Regions from separate parts of the Homo sapiens genome. Here region 2 is linked to region 1. The links come from fine-mapping of genetic effects on gene expression. Tissue or cell type: sigmoid colon. Region 1 holds a variant in brackets; the other region holds the start of a gene. All regions are shown on one strand. Distances are between the middles of the regions.

Evidence for each region. PIP is the estimated chance that this variant, and not a neighbour inherited with it, causes the effect.
Region 2: it holds the start of CCDC158, and the variant in region 1 is fine-mapped to the expression of CCDC158 in sigmoid colon (GTEx, PIP above 0.99).

Annotation. Positions count from the first base shown.
Region 1 is chr4:76,292,269-76,300,420 of GRCh38, reverse strand. All of the region lies in intron 6 of FAM47E-STBD1 (FAM47E-STBD1 readthrough), which reads right to left. Among named protein-coding and RNA genes, the nearest start is that of STBD1, 10 kb to the left of the region's middle. The variant T/C (reference allele first, on the strand shown) is at 3,554.
Region 2 is chr4:76,417,777-76,425,928 of GRCh38, reverse strand. It overlaps CCDC158 (coiled-coil domain containing 158), which reads left to right and starts at 4,788. Exons shown (of 25, transcript NM_001394954.1): 1 at 4,788-4,964.

The sequences.
Region 1 (8,152 bases):
AAGGAGAATGAATAAATAAACAAAGAGGTCCAGGGTGGGGTCTGGATTCTGCTTTCCTAACAAGCTGCCAGTTGATACTGGTCTGTTGGCCTCACTGTAAGTAGCAAAGAGACTAAGGAGTAAGGTGAACTCAAACCTTGCAGGCTTAAAGAGGAAGTGAGGAAGAATGGAGGGAAATATGAGGGAGGAAGGAAGAGGAGAACAGGCAAGTTTTGAAGGGTGGAGTCAGGGAGAGTCCAGGGCAGGGGCAGCGGGCCCGGCACACAGAAAAGGGAAGAGCCCATGGGTGCCATTGGCAATCTCTGCTTCCTCCAGTCAGACCTGCCGGACCACGCCATGCACTCCAGCTCCTCACACAATTAGATACAATTCAAATAATTGTAATCATGAGTGAAAGACTCCCAATTCCCACCAGGTGCACACTGTTACTAGAGAGAATGTAAGCCAAATTTCTCCTCAGAGAGATCCTCCCCAACCAAAGTTGGCCCTTGCCCTCACTTCCGCAGGCCTGCCCCCTGCTGTTCTCCATCCCTGCACCCCATTAATTGCCCATGTCACTCTCCATATTATCTTCTTTGATTAAAGGTGTGTTTCCCTCACTGGATTGTAAGCTCACAAGGGCAGGGAATTTATAGTTTTCTCCCAGTGACCTATAGGGTGCCTAGTGTCCTACACGGTAGAGGCTCAAAATATGTATTTATTGAGTGAATGAATAAATGAATATCAAGAATGGTCAAGCACTAGCATGTACCACCAAAATATAGGCTGTAAATGTCCAAGAGATTTTTTTAAAAGCATTGACAGTTATCTTCTTGGGAGAGAATGAGGTAGATTAGACCAGGACAGATCTAGCAAAGCCACCATGAGGGCAAAGTTTGGGGTGTCCCTTTATCTCGTTTCTTGTCTTCTTCCTCTTTTTGGTATTATTCTTTTTTTTTTTTTTTTTGTGAGACAAAGTCTCACTCTGTTGCCCACACTGGAGTGCGGTTGGCACAATCTCGGCTCACTGCAACCTCCGCCTTCTGGGTTCAAGTGATTCTCCTGCTTCAGCCTCCTGAGTAGCTGGGATTACAGGCATGTGCCACCACACCTGGCTAATTTTTGTATTTTTAGTAGAGACGGGGTTTCACCATGTTGGTCAGGCTGGTCTCAAACTCCTGACCTTGTGACCCGCCCGCCTCAGCCTCCCAAAGTGCTGGGATTACAGGTGTGAGCCACTGCACCTGGCCTCAGTATTATTCTTTAACTGCTTTCTGATTCCACCCATCCACCCAACCACGGAACTGTAAATATTGTTATCTGTGAACATTTGTCAAAAAGAAAGTTGATGTGTCACCAGTACCTTACAGTGAACTTGTTTGATATTTTAAAATCAGTTTAGAGGGAGGACAAACTAAAATAATGCATTTTTTTATTGATATGTCATATTTGTACATTTTTATGGGGTACATGTGGTATTTGTTACATGCACAGAATGTGTAATGATCAAGTCAGGGTATTTAGAGTATCCATCATTCTATGTGTTGGGAACATTTCAAGTCCTCTCTTCTAGGTATTTTGAAATATATAGTACTTTGTTACTCTGGCGTCAAATATTACAATTAATTCCTTCTATCTAACTGTCTGTATTAACCAACCAACCTCTCTCTTTATTCCTCCCCCACCCCCTACACACCCTTCCCTGCCTCTGGTAACTATCATTTTGCCCTCTACCTCCACGAGGTCAACTTTTTTAGCTCCCAGATATGAATGAGAACATGCAATATTTGTCTTCCTGTGCTTGGCTTATTTCACGTAATATAATATCCTCCAGTTTCATCTATGTTGTTGCAAATGACAAGATTTCATTCTATAGCCAACTTAGATTTCATTATGTATTTGTAAACTATTCATCCAACAAGGGACAAATATCCAAAATATACAAGTAACTCAACAGCAAAAGAACTAATAATCCCATTAAAAAGTGGGCAAATAATGCATTTCTAATGTAAGAATTTTATACCCTGCACACCTACCTTGGAGGGTGATGGGGGAAAGCAGGGCTTCCCCACCTCTTCTAACCAGAATGTGTAATACTGCCTATTCTGCCCACAGTGAAAGCAGGCCCTGTGAGCACACCATTGCTCATGCCCCAGGAGAAAATTGAGCTAAGTCACAAAGAAATGCAATAGACCAAATTCATTTTTAAATGTTCATTTTTAAAAATGTTCACCAATGATAAAAATAAATTCAAATATAAACAATATATTTTAATAGGGAAAAAATTCAACCTTTTTGGAGGCAACTTAGCACTCTATATCCAAAAACCTTAAAGAACAAGACAGAATAAACAACTATGTGAGTGTGTGTGTGTGTGTGTGTGTGTGTGTGTGTGTGTAGCTGCATGTACATATATCCTTTGACATAGCAATTCAACTTCTGGGAATTTTGGGTGAGTAGAGGCCAGAGGTGATACTAAATATTCTACAAAGCACAGAACAGTCCCTCACAACAAAGAATAATAAGAAAAATTCGATCCAAAACATCAATATTGCCTGGGCTGAGAAAATCTGCACCAGAGCATGTGATCTCAGGGAAAGCAAAGAGGGAACACAATGCCTTTTACAGTCTAGTTTTGGAATCACACATCGCTACTTCTGCTACATTCTATTCTTTAGAAATAAGCCACTAAGCACAGCCCACACTCAAGAAAAGCAGAATCAAGCTTCATCTTTTGAAGGAAAGAGTATCACAGAATTTGTGAACATATTTTAAGACAAGACCAATCTGTCCTCTAGCCACAAATTACTTACATTCTTTTCATATGTAAAATATACTTACCCCCACAGCCCCACCCTTACAAAATCCTCCCATAACCCCTTTACAGCATCAGTTTGGAATCCAGAATGTTAGAATCTGAATCAGGCCCAGGTACAGATGAAACTGCTTAGATGTACTTCCTAAGTACAATTATTCTAATGCATTTCCTTTCAATCTGAAGACAGAAAGGTATATGCCTATCCCTCCCACCCCCACCCTCTGTAACATCACCCAACATATAATAGTAGAACAGACACAATATAATCACCATATACAATCATATTCCAAAAATAGGAGAAAAATAGAGGCATACAGGAGTCACTGCTCCATGGCAATTCTGTAAAGCAGCCAAGGAAATTGTAGAAGGTCCTCAATTAGAACTTTGTTCAACTAGGAATAATTCTGCATGGCCTTTGTTTCCACTTTCTTGGTTATGTCCTCTGAGTCATCTGTTCTATAATGGAAGCACATATGTGTAGCTGAGAAGTTCTCTCAGTCTGCTTTCTGCCAGTAGAACTATGGAGATCCAGAGGCCTCTTTTCATTTCATACTGTCTTTGTCCCTTTTAGTCCAAGCTGGCAGTTTTTATTCCAATACAATTCTTTGAAAAACTTTACAGATTTCCTGTGACTCTTATTGGGTCCATGCCATTTTTCAAAAGCCAAATCTACAAATCAATTCAAGATAAGCCCTTCTCTACCATGGGCTTCTGGTGAAGAACAACATCTTCAGCTTCTTAGAAGCTTTATTTGTT[T/C]GATCAAAAGAAACTGTAGCACACCTAAGAAAATTTTAGGGAGCCTTTTGTCTAGTTGAACAGTACGCTGAGGCAACACCTTTTATCTTTCTGAGGTCTTAACAAAGGATTTAACAGTTACATCCTTACATCCTTGGAGTCTTCTTTAGACCATGTTTTCCTGGCAATGTCCTGGATTTTGTCTTTGCCCCATATCATTCCTTAATTTAAACATTATCTGCTATCCAAGAGGCTAGACATTTCGAAACCATAAAATCCTGGTTCCTCTTTTTAAGCTGTCCTGCTTTAGCTTATCTATTTCTTCTTGCATTTTGCTGTAAGCAGCAAATGAAAACCAGGCAGTATCTTCAACATTCTGTATGAAAATCTCCTTCGTTAGATCATCCAGCTCATCAGCTGCCTTTTCTACATTCCATGTGGGCTAAACTTTTTGCTATTTCATAACAAGGAGACTGTTTCTCCCACTTTCCAATAACATTACCTCATTTTCCTACAAGCTGTCACCTCCTCAAAGGCTTCTACTAACAGTGTTTTTAAGGCCCTTGAAGCTTTTACTAACAGTCTTCTCAAAATTTTCCAGCTTCCACCCCACTACCCAGTTCTTCTCCCTCCCACACTTTAGGTTCTTGTTATAGCAGCACTCCACTTCCAGGTAACAAAATCTATATTAGTTACCTATTACTGCTTAACAAATAAATCTTAAGCTTAATGGCTTAAAACAACAAACATTATAGTGGTTTTTGTGATTCAAGAATTCAAGAGCAACTTTGTGGTTCTGGCTCAGGACCTCCCGTAAGACTACAGTCAGGATGTCAGCAGGGGTTGCAGTCTCATCTGAAGACTTACTAGGGACTGGAGGATCCACTTCCTAGATGGCTTGCCCCATGGCTGCTAGAAGAAGGCTTTAGTTCCTTGCTATGTGGGCCTCTCCATAGACAACTTTAGTGTCCTCACAACATGGCAGCTAGACACTCCCAGAGCAGATGATCCAAGTGAGAACAAGAAGGAAGCCACAATTTCACCTGATGTGATTGGGACTCAGAAATCAGGCATCATCACCTTTCCCACATTGTCTTCATTAGAAGCAAGTCGCTAAGTACAGCCCACTAACTACAGTCACTAACTACACTTGAGTGGAGGGAATTAGACACCACATTTTGAAAAAGTATCAAATAATTTGTGGACTTTTTTTTTTTTTTTTGAAACAGAGTCTTGCTCTGTCGCCCAGGCTGGAGTGCAGTGGTGTTATCTCGGCTCACTGCAAGCTCTGCCTCCTGGGTTCAGGACATTCTCCTGCCTCAGCCTCCCGAGTAGCTGGGACTACAGTTGCCTGCCACCATGCCCAGCTAATTTTTTGTATTTTTTAGTAGAGATGGAGTTTCACCGTGTTAGCCAGGATGGTCTTGATCGCCTGACCTCATGATCCACCCGCCTTTGGCACACCAAAGTGCTGGGATTACAGGTGTGAGCCACCAGCCTGGCCAATTTGTGGACATATTTTAAAACAAACACAAATCCCCAAATCAGGGGCTCTTTGGAATTTTCTAAAGAAATATGTCTTGAAACTGTTGAACTGGGAGAGAGAGAGATAATTGACTGTTTAGTTTGCTAAGTTAAGACATCATTTGAATTCACAGGTTTTTAGGATACCTTATGTGAAGCTAGAACATTGTTTGGAAAAAGTGAGACCCTGAATCCTGAAATGGGAACATATGGGAAGATACGGTGGGCTCCAAGTACCCTAAACTCCCAACCCTATGAAAATATGCTACTCAGATCATCTGCTGCAGAGAGCATCATTGGCTGGTGGACCAAATTGCTGCCTCCCTGGATCCTCCACCCTCACACTGAGGCCATGCTTCTCATGGGCTACCCCTAACCAATGACTGAGCATGCCAGAAGCACCAAGGTAGTCCCATTCTGGCAAGAAGTGAAACTCCTCCTCTAGGCAACTTCAACTTGAGGACTTCCTGCTGGACTGGCGAAACCTTTATTTGAATTGTGCTACAGTCCAAGATTCTTCTTACACCAATCTTCTTTCCTTCCCTTATTCCTTCCACAGATATCAGACAGGCATCACAGTCTAAAGCTCTCTCTATCTTTTCCCATTCCTTCCTTCAGTAAAGCTCAAGAACATCTATTCCCATCTTGCCATTGCTTCTTGGCACACCTGAATTAATGCAGCCTTCCTCGTCAGAGAAAATCTCCCTTCATGATGAGGCTTTTTCCATCTTTCATGAAGACTCTGTAATGTTATTCTTTGTGGGAGTAACCTTACTGGAGGTAGGGGAAAACAATTCTCTTCATTCTTTGCTCCTAACATCCCTCATTGCCTTGAATTCTATAGTCAATAAGGTGCTAGAGACAGGTTGTACCAACTCACAAAGGTCAACTGACAAATTTTCAAGAATTTAGTGAGCTGATTGCTAAACACAACCATTATTAAAACAAATTATATATACTTACAGTTAAATAAATGATGTGAAAAACAAAGATAATTACAAACTCATCACTTCCTAGTTGACAGCTTTTTATTATTATCTATGCTGCTCAGATTATTTATATGTATTATAACTGGGTGTTGGAAATACTCTATAATGGTGTGTCTTTGAATTTTGGAGACCAGATTTAGACATGCTGTTTCAGCTAGTTTTTTTAATAATCTGAGAGGTTGCCAATTTTGAGTGCAGCCTGAAGCAAGAGTATGCTTTCTCACTGGTCCAGGAAGCTCTGTCTTCTGATCCAGTGGATCCAATGTTATTGAAATGCCTGTGGCAGACAGGGCTGCTGAATGGAGCTTTGGAACATCCAGCACAGGCTCTGAGAGTTTTGCAGCCAAGCCACGGATTCTGTGGCATGTAACTTTTCTCCTTTTGAGAAACAGATTTTGGCTTGTTGCTGAGCACTGGTAAATACAGCAGCCTAATCTCATGGCTAGCACTCATCATAAGCTGGGGACTATCTGATTCACCACGCCATAAAGTCAGCTAACATTTAGTGTGTGTGCACAGTGTGCCAAGCTCTGCTCTAAGTACTTTACTTGCAACATTTCCTTTAATCCTCACCACATTTCTGGGAAATAGTACTGTTATTGTAATCATCCCTATTTTAGATGAGAAAATTGAAGCAGAGAGAGGATAAAAGCAATTTGACCATAGTCATATATCTAATAAGTGGCAGGACTTGGTTAGAACACAGGCCCCCTGGCTTCAAAGTACACATATTAAATTACCAAATTGTATTGCTTCTTATGATCAAGTGAAAGTTTCCTACATAAGATTGGGCTTGAGCAGAAATTGAAGACACAACAAATTGCATGGTGTTCCCACTCCTACCACATTACCATTTTTTCCTCAGCCTACACCTCTGACTTCATGGTATGTTCTCTAAGTCCAACTGACTAGACAGCAACCAGCACAATATGACAGCACCAGCCACAAGTAGACTACAGCAACATTATAGGCCAACTTGAGGGTGACCCTGAAGATCAACAAAGAGGAATCTTCCAGAAGGCAGAATTTTAAGCATTTTATCTTGCTGACCACTTTGTCTGAAAGGAGAAATGGTATGAGGCACAGATATCACCAGTTAATGGTCATTAGCTGACGGTGTAGCTCAGCAGCCAAGACATGGAAGGATCAAGAATGCAAGTCTGGTGACAAAGATGTTCAGAGGAAGAGGTATCTATGGGATCTCTGAGAATGAATCCAGAGTATGAGGATATTTGGTTCTTTGTGAATGCCACCCAAAGGCCCCCACTGGAGAGGAAGTGCTCAATAGTCAAGAGAAGAGGTTGACCTGGCTCCTGCATGCCAACTCTCTCCTTTCTGCAGGCACTCCAGTGTTGCCCAATGAGCGAAGTAGGCATAGTAGCAGAATCACAGGCTACACGGGGGTTTAGCAACTTGGATTTCCCTCATCAAACCTGATCTGGCCACTGCTTCTGTTAAATATTTATTTGTCCAGGAAATAAAACTAAAGTCCCTGATGTGAATTAGGTTTGAATGGAACAAAGCCAGGAACAATGTGCCTGGGGAAAGAAGTGGATTCCCTCCAGACTACCACTTCCCGTAGCCTCTGCTGCTCAGCACCTGAAAGCCAGACTGGCTTGCAGAGGATCAGCTCTCCCCTTGGTGCTCCCTTGGACTTCCAAACATGTGGGCACTTTAATGAGTTGAAACATTAAGAGAGTTTGGGAAATGCAGCCATTAGTTTTCCAGCCTCTACAGTAGGAAGGCAAGCTAGAAGGAGGTCATAATGGTCGTTGAATGAGTGGGTTCAAAGAATGTCCCAGACCTCTTCCATTATCATGAAAGGGGCAGTAATTTATCTTTACTGGAATAGTAACTTATTCTGGATTGGGATTTGCTGACCCTGCCTAACAAATTTCTGCCCACACCAACATTCATTATTTATTCTGCACCAGCAACCAATATATGCTGTTTTTCCCATATTCAGCATACATGGGTGTAGCATCAGGAGGAGCACCTCCTTCAGAACCACTTGCAAAACTGTTACTTCTTAGCCCCATGAACTGGGCTCTGGTGATTTAAAAGCTTGAGACAAGGTGTCTATCAGTAGAAAAAAAATAATAGTTCC
Region 2 (8,152 bases), 130 kb before region 1:
AAGAACAAGTTTGGACTCAGTCACAATCCATCCCACACTTCCTCTTCTCCTTCCCTGCTTCCTTTGTCCCCATGGCATTTACCACCTTCTAGTGCATTAATTTTGTCACGGTGATTATTTATGATCCGTCCCCCACCACTGAAACGTAAGTTCCATGAGGGCAGGGTTTGGGTCCGTTTTGTTCACTGATGTTCCTGATACTCAGTTGGTGCTCAATAAATATTTGTTTATTGAACTCAAGCTTTCTAATTAGATATATTTCTCTCCTTGTGTCGCTGGTGGAGAGAAGAATGTCAGAACATTAACTACATGGTCTTTTAATATTTTATGCTCTATGTACTTGCATACTAATACTATGTATTAGAGATGACTTGCCACTTATCCCCTCCACCACAATATATATTGATGACTTCTATATGTCCAGCTCTGTACTGGGCACTGGGGAAAAGTCGTTGCCCAATAAAATGTACAACAGAAAGTTTTAAACCATAGTCAGGAAAGGAAAATATCTATCCCCCTAATCCAGGCTGCTCTGTAACTCTGCTTTAACACTGTATTTAGTTTTGAAGATCTTTGGCCAAAGAAAAGTTTCAAGGTCTAGATCATAAAGGAAACACAATGGTTAAAGTAATTTCATATAATCTACACCATATGCTAAATTAAAATATGTGGTTTTTCCTAAGTACCACCTGTTTACAAAGCTCGTTGTGTTGGCTGAACCAAGACTTTTTTTGAACTTAGCAAATTGTGAATTAAATTTTAAGTGACCCTGTATATGCATTATGTATATTATGTCTGAAGTACTTTTCTGACACAATTTTAACAAAAGTTTTTGTATTAAGATAAAGTTCTATGCTTTGATTTTATAAAATCATAGGGCTTTTTCTTGTTTTTTTTTTTTCTTCAGTTAGAAAAGCCCCTTCTGATATTTCTACATCTCACATTTTGCAGATGAAAATACTAACGCTTTGTAAGTTCAAATGGCTTGCCCAAGCTAGTGCCAAAGCTCAGATCAGGCCTGGGTTCCATGTTCCTGAGTCTTAACTGCATCCTCACAAACCCCAGCCACCATTTGGATTGACATTAGGAGGGACACAGGTTCCTTGAGGGCAGAAACTGGAGCTTCTTTGCATCTCCCCAGTACCCAGCACAGGGTCTAGTGCAGAGTAAGAACCAGTGAAGGGAGACACAACAACCTTGGACCTATGCATGGACTCTTACTAAAGAGCTCTCGGTGACTTGGGCCCTAAATGACCACAACGCCCCAACCTCTGCTTGTTCATCCACTCTGCTCAGTCCTCACTAGCCTCTGGGTTTTTTCAAACACACCAACCAAATGCCTGAAAAGCTCTGTCCCACAATAACCACACAGATCCCTTCCCCCAGCCCTACAAGTCTCTTTTGAATGTCACTTTATCAATGAGGCCTTTTCAAGACCTCACTATGAAACAGCAGCCCCACACTCCCTAACCTCCTACCTCTGTCTCCACAACACGTATCCCCATCTGGCATATTTGAACTTGTCTATTTGTGCATTGCTCATCTTCCTCTACAAGAATGTAAGCACTACTAGGGTAGGGACTGTATTTGTTCCCAGCTTTCTTTTTTTTTTTTTTTTTTCGATCTTTTTTTTTTTAATTGATCATTCTTGGGTGTTTCTCGCAGAGGGGGATTTGGCAGGGTCATCGGACAATAGTGGAGGGAAGGTCAGCAGATAACCAAGTGAACAAAGAAACAAGTGAACAAAGGTCTCTGGCTTTCCTAGGCAGAGGACCCTGCGGCCTTCCGCAGTGTTTGTGTCCCTGGGTACTTGAGATTAGGGAGTGGTGGTGACTCTTAACGAGCATGCTGCCTTCAAGCATCTGTTTAACAAAGCACATCTTGCACCGCCCTTAATCCATTTAACCCTGAGTGGACACAGCACATGTTTCAGAGAGCACAGGTTTGGGGGTAAGGTCACAGTTCAACAGGATCCCAAGGCAGAAGAATTTTTCTTAGTACAGAACAAAATGAAAAGTCTCCCATGTCTACTTCTTTCCACACAGACACGGCAACCATCCGATTTCTCAATCTTTTCCCCACCTTTCCCCCCTTTCTATTCCACAAAACCACCATTGTCATCATGGCCCGTTCTCAATGAGCTGTTGGGTACACCTCCCAGACGGGGTGGTGGCCAGGCAGAGGGGCTCCTCACTTCCCAGTAGGGGCGGCCGGGCAGAGGCGCCCCTCACCTCCCGGATGGGGTGGCTGGCCGGGCGGGGGGCTGACCCCCCCACCTCCCTCCCGGATGGGGCGGCTGGCCGGGCAGAGGGGCTGACCCCCACCTCCCTCCCGGACGGGGTGGCTGCCGGGCGGAGACGCTCCTCACTTCCCAGACGGGGTGGCTGCCGGGCGGAGGGGCTCCTCACTTCTCAGATGGGGCGGCTGCCAGGCGGAGGGGCTCCTCACTTCTCAGACGGGACAGTTGCCAGGCAGAGGGTCTCCTCACTTCTCAGACGGGGCAGCTGGGCAGAGATGCTCCTCACCTCCCAGACGGGGTCGCGGCCGGGCAGAGGCGCTCCTCACACCGCAGACGGGGCGGCGGGGCAAAGGCGCTCCCCACATCTCAGACGATGAGCGGCCGGGCAGAGACGCTCCTCGCTTCCTAGATGGGATGGCGGCCGGGAAGAGGCACTCCTCACTTTCCAGACTGGGCAGCCAGGCAGAGGGGCTCCTCACATCCCAGAAGATAGGCGGCCAGGCAGAGACGCTCCTCACTTCCCAGACGGGGTGGCGGCCGGGCAGAGGCAGCACTCTCCGCACTTTGGGAGGCCAAGGCAGGCGGCTGGGAGGTGGAGGTTGTAGCGAGCCGAGATCACGCCACTGCACTCCAGCCTGGGCACCATTGAGCACTGAGTGAACCAGACACCGTCTGCAATCCCGGCACCTCCGGAGGCCGAGGCTGGCGGATCACTCGCGGTTAGGAGCTGGAGACCAGCCCGGCCAGCACAGCGAAACCCCGTCTCCACCAGAAAAATACGAAAACCAGTCAGGCGTGGCGGCGCGCGCCTGCAATGGCAGGCACTCCGCAGGCTGAGGCAGGAGAATCAGGCAGGGAGGTTGCAGAGAGCCGACATGGCAGCAGTACAGTCCAGCTTCGGCTGGGCATCAGAGGGAGACCGTGGAAAGAGAGGGAGAGGGAGACCTTGGAGAGGGAAAAGGAGGGGGAGGGGGAGGGGGAGAGGGAGAGGGAGAGGGCCCCAGCTTTATTGTCACAACCTACACATAGCATGTTGTAGGTGCCCTATAAATATGGATGGAATGAATGAATGAATGGAAAAGGACTTTGGATCCCTTTCTTGATCTTTTAATTCTTTATTTAAAAAGCTAAGAAGCTGTTTTTAATACAATATTTAAAAAATGTTGTAAAACCGCAGGACACTTCAAAATGTGATGAATTTTATAGTAAAATCAGGGGCACATAACTTTTCGTACATATATGTGGGTGTAGATAATTTCATGCTACACTAATTAACACACCTTTTAATTAAAGACGTTGAAAAGAAAAAAACCTTTTTGTGTGTGTCCAGGGTACAAGCACAAAATGAGACACCAATGGAAACCATGTATTAGGTATGGAAAATTTTTATGTCATTGAACACTCATGTTTTGATAGAAAAAAGAAAAAATTAGAAATTGCTTTTTGTCCAACCACAAGACCTAAATTATTTACCTTTCTATGTAATACTTATGGTTTCACTTCCTGTTAAAAATGCTCGATTCTATAGCTAATCCTAGATCTCTATAAGCCAATAAATGGATTAACTACAAAGATATGATAAACAATCTTTAATGGCATTTAATCTATTTTTATTAAAATTTGTAGCTACATTATTTAATGTAAGACTTACTAATATTTCTAATCAACTTATACATAAAAAGTTATTTGCTGTAGGTGTCTGCACAATGTGATTGCTAGCAGAATTAAATGCCTCAGGCTGCATCTATCAGACACTGGCCTTTCTGGATGCGTTCCATTTGATCGATAATTTGGGCAGCAAAATCTGATAAATTCTATATTAGAGATAATGACAGAGGGTAACTGTAGCACAGCGGAGGGAACAAGTCTCCAGAGGCAGAAGGGTCAGCTATGCCGAGAACACGTTTGAACTTGAACATTCGGGGACAGAGAAAACAGAGCTGCAAAATGTGAATTCTGTTAACTTGAAATGGTCAAATGGGAATGCCAGGAGTGGGAATGGGAGGGGGGGGTGAGGTGGGGCCGGGTGGGGGTGTCAGAGTAGGAGGCCCGGCGGGCAACTCCAGATTGGGCTTGACTCTTTGGCAGGTAAGAGCTCAGACTGGTGCGGGTCAGTGAGTTATCTGGGAAGACCACGGTGGGGACAGCTACGAGAGTGGCCCGAGGCGCTCGGGTGGGGGCAAGAGTAGGGCCGGAGACCAGTTAGGAGGCTGTGGGAGAAGCGGCAGAGGGCGCCGGGTGCAGGTCCGAACCCAGGGTAGTTTCTGGGGCAGGGCTCCAGGATTTGACTCCGGGCTGGGTACACCCCCACTCCTTAGGGCGCCCGGGCGGTGGTGGGGACTTCGACGCTCGGATGCCCCAGCGACGGCGTCCGGCGGGCGGAGTCGCAGGCGCGGGAGGGGTCCCCGCCGGGCAGCTGCCGAGCACCCCCCTCCTCCCCTCCCCCAACTACGAAGCCTCGCAGAGCGTCCTAACCGTCACCCACGCGGCTCGCGCGGACTGGGCAGCGCCCCGAGCGCCACAGCCGCGAGGAGTGACGGGCGCGGGCAGCTTCCGGCGCCGCAGCCGAGGAGGAGGAGCCGCCCCGCAGCCTCCGCGGGGCCTAGGGGCGAAGAGTGGGGAGCCGCCCCGTCCCAGCCGCCAGGTCGACGTAGGTGGGGCCGCTGCGCCCGCCGGCGCCCCGCGGAGATGTGGCCGGTGTCTTAGGATTAGGTGTTGGTTGCAGGTACAAGCGGGGCGCGGCCCGGGAGACGAGGATGGTGGGGTGGGAGTGGGGTTCTTCTGAGGACCCGGAGCGACTCGTGTTCATTTCTGGAATCTTCCGGTGCCTCGTGTTTGTTCTGCACATGGAAGATGCCCAATAAATTGTTTCTTTACTGGAATGAGCTGCTGTTGTTTTAGGGGATTGCAAGACCCCTGGGGACGGTGGCGCTGAAACCTGGACCTTGAAGAACACAGGGGCCTGCGCAAACTGATTTGATTTGTGGGGAAGAGAATCACCGAGTAACCTGCCCCAACGTGACTGCTGACTCTGTGTCTACCGCGCTGCCGCGAACAGGGGGAGGAGATGGGGAAGACTTGGTGGTAGAGAGGACAGCCTCGCATCCAAGACGGAATGGTGTTAAATGCCGGCGCAAGGGCCCTTTCAGCTTGAGCCCTGTCTTTAAACCACATGTGGGGGTCAGAGCTTTCCCTCATTATCAGCATCAATCAGCAACACAATGAGTTCTGGAAAGTCTCCATCCTTTTCCACAGCACTCTGCTCCAGGCCCCACTCAGGCTGCTCCAGGTTTTGTTTGTGCCTCATGCTGAACTCCAACGTCAGGGGAAAGTAGAAGTGAGGTCGGCTGTTGCCCAGGTTTTTTGACTGGCAACCAGTTCTTGCTGCTTCTCTCAGCAGGAGATTAAGGCGTTGTGGCCGGGTATGGCGGGGGCGTGTGGGGAAAGGACCAGGGCTTCCACATATCCCAGAGACATGCTAGGTAGGACTGTTTCTCTGTGCGGAAGCTCATCAGGTAAGGGTGCAGGAGTGCTGAGAGAGATGTGGTCCTCCTATCTCTGTACTGCGCTCATTGCTTTTAATCTTAGTGCGGTTATCTTACTTGTGTTGTGGGTGAAATGGTTTCCATGCCATAGAGTTAATATTATACTCCCAAAACAAATTGAGGACAGCAATTTATTTGTATGTATGCAAAGCCCTTACTGTTGTTGTGCATTTACAATGAGGACTTAGTTTTATCTAGTATGTTATGAGTGAGCCACTTTAGACCTCCACCATTTATTAAACAGGGCCTCTTGTGATCCACCCGTCCCCCAGCTAGATGGCCCCAAATTATATGGTAGGCTGAGCAGTGGCCACTCAAATATGTCAGGTCCTAATCCCTGAAACCTGTAAATGTTACCTTATAAGGGAAAAGTGCCTTTGCATACGTGATTAAGTAGCTTGAAATGGAGAGATTATCGTGAATTATCTAGGTGGGTCCTAAATGCAAACGCAAAGGTCCTAAGAGAGAGAGAGAAGCAGATTTGATATAGGCCGAAGAGAAGGCAATGTGACCACAGAGGCAGATATTGGAGTGATGTGGCCACAAGTCACCAAATGCCTGGCAACCAGCAGAGCTAGAAGAGGCAAGGAACTGATTCTCTTGCAGAGCCTCCAGAGGGAGGGAGGGAGCCCTGCCAACACCATGCTTTCTTCCCCATGAGACTGATTTTGGATTCCTGGCCTCCAGAATTATGAAAGAATAAGTTGCTATTGTTTTAAGCTACCGAGTTTTGATAATTTGTTATGGAAACTGTAGGGAACTAATACATATGAGCGTGCTCATAAATCACATACATGCTGTACTGATGAATAGTTTACAGGTCTTCAGCTGGGGCAATAGTGGGGTACAGTAGTGGAGATCACTGTATATTTATCTGAATCCTGTAAATCCTAAAGAAAGGATTTGAATAGGGAATTTGGTAAGAAAAGAAATTTAAGTGGTGCATATGAAGGAGGTAGTCTGGCATTTAAAGCAATTTTTTAAGAGTATTCCTATTAATATATCACTATTTGCTCTGGCTAAAAAGAATAAAGGTAAAAAGTGGCAAAGGCTTTGTCCTTACCTTAGCTGAATCATTATTGATTATCCATTGTGTGTATATCAAGTAAGAGTTGCAGACACCTGGGGATTGAGGTCCAGGCCTGGGGAAAAGAGGGAATGCAGAAGTGCTTCCATGTATTAAAATATGGCTAAAAGCAACCGCTAGTCATCTGGAATTAAGATACTTTGGAGTTTTCAGGATACAGGAAAATTCAGTGTTCAAGTTTAATGATTCACTTCTGGGACCCAGGCAGCTAATTTACACTTCCCACTTTCCTTGATATGGTTTGGCTGTATCCCCACCCAAATCTCATCTTGGATTGTAGCTCCCACAATTCCCGTGTGTTGCGGGAGGGACCCAGTGGAAGGTAATTGAATCATGGGGGCAGGTCTTTCCTGTGCTGTTCTCGTGATAGTGAATAAGCCTCACAAGATCTGATGGTTTTATAAAGGGGAGCTCCCCCTGCACAAGCTCTCTCTTGCCTGCCGCCACATAAGACTTCCCTTGCTCTTCCTCCATGATCGTGAGGCCTCCCCAGCCATGTGAAACTGTGAGTCCATTAAACCTCTTTTTTCTTTATAAATTACCCAGTCTTGGGAATGTCTTTATCAGCAGCATGAAAACAGACTAATACACTCCCCACATCTGCTTTCTTTTCAAACTGCTTTATAAGGTATAATTTACATACCATAAAATTCACCTGTTTTAAGTGGACAGTCCAGTGATTTTTAATAAACTTACTGAATTGTACAATCAGCACACAATTCAGTTTTAGAACATTTTCATCATCCAAAAATGATGCCTTGTACCCTTCTGTAGTCAATCCCCATTCCCAACCCCAGCACCATCTGCTTTTAATGACTGGCCTACTTCAGAGTTGGGTTTTAGTCCCTTTGTTGGACTGCTCCAATGGCTTTATAGCTAGCCCCAGCTTCTCCTAGTGTATTCTCTACTCAGCCGCTGGAGGATCATATGCCCTTGATTAAAATCCTCCAGTGCTTTGCGTTGCGTTTAGAATAAGCCCCAAAGTCTTCAGTATGTGGCCTTTTCAAGGCCCCATGAGCTTTACCTCCGCCAACCTCACTGACATCTTCTCAGGATAGTGTAGGAAAGGAAGTGATAAGCACAGTGTTCCTTTTGGCATGACACATAGTTGGCCTCCATTAGAAGCCCTCTCATCCCCACTTAGCTACCCTGCAGCCTCATTAGCCTTCTTCACTGGGAGTCAGTGAACACTGAGCTCTTCTCATTTTTGGGCCTTTGTGATGGCATTTCTTTTAAGAAGTTATCCCTGGCCACTGTGAGGCTGACCCCTTTCTGTCATTC